Linked DNA regions of Homo sapiens: region 1 is linked to region 2. Evidence: fine-mapped expression QTL. A gene starts in region 2. The other region holds a variant in brackets. All regions are shown on one strand. Distances are from middle to middle.

The links.
Region 1: its variant is fine-mapped to the expression of DICER1 in fibroblasts (GTEx, PIP above 0.99). The same link has a PIP of 0.9 or more in breast.

The regions. Positions count from the first base shown.
Region 1 is chr14:95,190,895-95,193,394 of GRCh38, forward strand. CLMN (calmin) reads right to left here. Exons shown (of 13, transcript NM_024734.4): 13 at 1-838. The coding sequence ends at 670. Among named protein-coding and RNA genes, the nearest start is that of DICER1-AS1, 34 kb to the left of the region's middle. The variant T/C (reference allele first, on the strand shown) is at 1,071.
Region 2 is chr14:95,156,369-95,158,868 of GRCh38, forward strand. DICER1 (dicer 1, ribonuclease III) reads right to left here and starts at 1,161. Exons shown (of 27, transcript NM_177438.3): 1 at 862-1,161. It overlaps DICER1-AS1 (DICER1 antisense RNA 1), which reads left to right and starts at 1,320. Exons shown (of 4, transcript NR_015415.1): 1 at 1,320-1,490; 2 at 1,825-1,866. RefSeq lists silencers at 452-811, 872-1,331 and enhancers at 1,422-1,521, 1,562-1,631.

The DNA of each region.
Region 1 (2,500 bases), 35 kb after region 2:
AAAACAAAACAAAAAAACAACAAAAAAAACAGGGTGAAAAAGAGCACACAGTGGCTCTCAACACAGCTTTCACCTTCCTCCCTGGATTCTGCCATTCCTGGATGTGCTTACACAGAGCTGGCTGCTCGGATTTCCCCTAGTGAATGCAACCAGTTACCGGACTGCGACAGGTGCATGGACCCCAGCACCTTCTCTCAAACACCCACGCTTGGAGGAAAACGTGGCAGCTCTCTCCCCAGCTGGGGCTTGGCCTGGGGTGCCCACCCTCTTTCTCATTAAGCAGCCCTTCATCTGAGAGGTAAGAAACTCAAGTTCATCCAGCGTGTGAACCTGCAATGTGGGGTGTGCTAAGATCCAGGCGGGCTAATGATCACTAACAATGCTCCCTATCCAACCCAGCAAGGCACACAAGGACAAAACCCCACCTACGGATCCAGCTGCATGCCTGAGTTTTGAGTACACAGCCAAAGAAAAAAGCATGCTCAGGTTGTCCAGAAAAAAAAGGAAACCTGAAAAAAAAAAAAAAACCACAATAGCGAGAAAGGGGGTCTAAGTTTCCTCGGAGGTCCTCAACTGTCTGTAGAAGTGCCCCACCCAGAACCCAAAATAAAATGAAGTAACCCCGCCCCTGGTCAGGGTCCTGTCTTTTTTATTATCCAGACACACGTATCAGAGCCTGCTAACATCCAGTTGTGGGAAGAGCAGCAAGCAGTACACCAGGAGCCACAGGAAGAGAATAAAATACATCATATCCGGCTGCTGGACAAGCTGTGTCAGGGAGTCACTCTGCGGGCTGTGGCTCCCCAGTGACATGGCTTCTCCTGAGCTGTTGGCCTTCCTACAGAAGAAACACAGAGGAAACGCAGTTACCAAGCAGGTTCCCAGGAAAGTGGACCCCACCCAGTGCTACCCGTCTCTCCCCGGCCCCCACTCCCCGCCTGAAGACCCGAAGGCTCCCCAGCACCATGTCCAGGTAGGCCCCACACTGTGTGTACTGGCCCAAGGCAGTGCGTCGGGCCATCCAGGCAGCCCCTCGAGCTTTTGCACGTACTCCGTTCATCTCCATAACA[T/C]CAGGTGAGAGGAGGTGGCAGCCCCATTCTGCAGATGGACACACTGAGGCTTTCGGGGTGGAGTGACTTGCCCAAGGCCATGCAATTAACTTGGCGACAGAGAGGGCGCCTAGGCCAGGTCTCCTGGGACACCTTTCTTGATGCCACAGTGCTCTCAGAGAGTGACACGGAGTTAGATACTGATCGCTTGCTGCTGTTTGTTAGTAACGCAGGGGACCCCATAGGTCATCTAAGGGATGAAGTGTCCCTAATAGCAGATCATTTTAAATCATCTATCAGAAAGAAACAAAGACCTCTCCCATTCCCCACAGTTTTGTTTTGGCTTTGGAATATTACCTTTAAAATAATTACTAGATTTGATTTCAGTCAGATTTACCTTCCTGCTTTTATTTTATAGGTGGTAGTGTTAAAATGTCATTTCAGTTTTGCCTGGCGGATCATAGGGAAGCCCAGAAGGTTTTGCCTGGGGCTGGGGCCTCTGCTTGGAGCTGCATGTAGAGAAGCCTGCAGTGTAAGCCTCTTAGGGTGGTTTCGTGCGGTGTAATGGAGATTACGAGAGGCTAAAACCACTTGTCCCAGAACTATCTCCTGATAGCAGGAGCGAGGGGCAGGGTGGGATTAAACATCTGCCACAGTCTACATACTGAATGATAAATACCCACATGATGGTCTTCTTTAAAAAGCTGTCCACAGAAACAAGTTAAACTATATACTTTTTATAGAGACACGGTCTCTCTGTGTTGCCCAGGCTAGTCTCAAACTCCTGGCCTCAAGCAGTCCTCCCTCCTTGGCCTCCCAAAGTGCTGGGATTACAGGCGTGAGCCACCATGCGCAGCCTAAACCATATTTTTTATTATAAAGGTAATAAATGCTCAATGTAGACAACTGAAAACACGACTGCATTTCTCAACTTTACAGGTTCTATTTTCAACGCCTCTATCTCATAAGAGCAAAAAGGATTATTTTCCTATGAGCATATCCAGCCTGGTGGAAAACTTGAATTAGTATTTCCATTTCATGGCAGGGGAAAGGAGCTGTCTTGCTTCTTTTTTAGCAGCCAGAGGGATGGGGTTCTAATGACCACACTCTTGGGTGTTGGGTAATATTCAGACAGAGGCTTCCGATTCCAGTAATCTAAATCCTTCCAAGCCAATTCAAATCTGTGGCGAGTAAATAAAATTTTTTAAAAATAAAAACATAATAAAGCAACTCTATGACTTCAACAGGAATGGGGACGTCTCAGAATTGTAAGAATTTGAGACGTTTTTCTGGTTTCCTATGTTTTAAATGGGCAGGTTTCCAGCAATTCAGCAACATTAGGCCAGGCCAACAGTTCTCCGACAGCAAGAAATACTTTCATAGACATCCTGGCATGTTTGCTTTCCCTCTTCATGTCTGCTCTGATGCCATAAAACTGTAAAATCAGCTCA
Region 2 (2,500 bases):
GTCCCTTTAACCACAACTCTCTCCACAAAAGCACGGAGTTAACACTACACAAATAGGACCCTCCAACTCATCTCCACGTTTCCGCGGATCTTCAGGTTCCTAAGGACACACTCAGTGGTTTGCTGGCTCTGACCTCCAGGCAGAGCCATCAGGGCAACTCAGCTTTTCTGGACAATCTACAGAAATCTGATGTGCTAACTTAAAACATACACTGATTTCCCCAAAATCAAAAACCCTGAAGAAAGGGTCCTCCGCAGGGTCTAGGCATTTTGGCACAAAAACATCTGAGGGGAGAGGCAAAAGAATGGCCTCGGCCCCTGCCCGCCCCCCAGGGCCCCAATCTGGTCCCCTGACAGTAATCACACAGGACCCTCCCGGGAGGGACCGAGAGCCCAGCTTCGTCCCCTCCGGGCGCGGCACAGCGGCCCCATCAGAGGAGGGCCCCAGGGTGCTCCGGCAGGTCAGGCGCGCGTCTCCACCTCCGCTGCTCCCGCGCCACCTTAGCGCGCGTGACGGGACCTGTCAAGAGCCCCAGGCCTCGCCAGGCCGGGGAGTGGACAGGCGCCGGCATCCCCCACCACGCCACGGCGGCCCGGAAAGTCTCCCAGGGCTGCCTCGCGGGGAGGCGCCGGGGTCCGGGCCCAGGAGCAGAGCCGAGGCGGGCAGACGCCGGGTCCACAGGCCGCGCTGTGCGGGACGACGAGGCAGGCGAGGCCGCGCCCTTCGTCAGCGCCCGCCAGGCCCGGACGCGCGGCTCGGGGCCATGGCCGGCACGCGGGCCTCCGCGCGGAGGCGGGAGCGCGGCCAGGCGACCCGCTCCCCGCCCCGGACACAAAGCTGCTCCGCGGGAGCCCGCCTCACCTGCAGCACGGGGCGCCGCGGGCCTTCGAGAACCATCGGACCCCGCTCCGGCGCGCGCGTCACAGCCCAGGCCTCCCGGAGCCGCCCGGCGCCGCCGCCCCCGCCGCCATTTCCTCGCGCTCGCCGTCGCCTCGTCCCCGCTGTCAGGTTACTCCATTCACCTGGGCCTGCAGCAGCCTGCGCCGCGCCTCCGCCTCGACCCCTCCCGCCGGCGCCTGCGGAGACTGCGCAGCGCCCGGCTGGCCGGCAGCCAGCGCACGGCCCGCGGCAACGGCGCACAGCCGCTTGGAGAATCCCACTGGCTCCCGCACCGCCCCTCCGCGCCCCCACGCTCCGCTCGCCCCGTGGCGGCATGAGAGCGAGCCTGTGATTGGACAGGGCCTGGCGGTGAAAGGTTAATCCCGGCCCCCCAGCCACTCAGGAGCAGGGAGACAGCGGGCGCGCGCGCGGAGGCCGGAGAGGCGTTTGCGGCCCAGCGCCTGGACTGGACCTTGGCGTTGGGCCGCAGTTGCCCGGAGTTTTTGGGGCCCCCGGGAACCCGCGCGCCGAGGCCGGCTAAGTTTGGCAGACTCTCTGAGCTCTCGGAATTCGACTGCCTCCATTGTTGCTCCTTCTGGCACCCACAGACCGTAACGTGGCCGTAATTGTTTCCCGGAGAGCTTAGCTTCCCTCTGAGCACCTCCCTCCCCTTTTTAAAGTACCTTCCCACTCGCCTGCGTTTCCTCGCGTTAGTGGTGCAGGGGCCTCCGCATTTGGGGAAATAACAAACACCCACTTCCGCCCCCCACCCCAACCGGGATCCCCAGATAATGAGAAATAGATGGTGGCCCTCTGTTTGTAAGCTGTTCATTTGCATAGGTCGGAACCGCGCACCACAGCTTGAAGCTAGGAATTAAAATATCGGTGGGAATTAAATAAGTGGCTGGCTTAAAGAACATCTTCTTAATTTATCCCCAAATGTAGACATCTCTTCAGTGGACCCCCTGATAGGCCGGTTTGCTCCAGGTGAGGTGTGCTCACAGCAACTGCAACCGTGTTTCTTTCAGACCATGGGCGTGAGCAGAACCTACTATGCGCCCCTGCTGCCTGGGCTGTGCTGTTCAGTTTGGGGCCACCAGCCCCACATGGCTCCTGAGCACTTAAAGTATGGCTAGTCGGAATCGAGATATATGCATTCTTTACCAAATAATGTTCAAAAAATTGTTACATGTTGAAGTGATAAACTTTTTCCATATATTGGGATAAAAGTTTTATTTGTTTATTTTTTAGTGTGGGTTCTACAGAATTTTAAATGTCACCTGTGGCCTGCATTATATTGCCATTGGGCAGGCTGATCTAGGGCTTGCATGCCTGTGATCCTTAGGTGCACCCTGTGAGGTAGGTGCTTTAACTGTGTGCACCCTGTGAGGTAGGTGCTTTAACTGTGTGCACATTGTGAGGTAGGTGCTGAAACTGCTTCCTGTTTTTTTTTTTTTTTTCTTTTGAGACGGAGTCTCACTCTGTCTCCAGGCTGGAGTGCAGTGGTGCGACCTGGGCTTACTGCAATCTCCGCCTCCCAGGTTCAAGTGATTCTCCTGCCTCAGCCTCCCGAGTAGCTGGGATTACAGGGGCACGCCACCACACCCAGCTAATTTTTGTA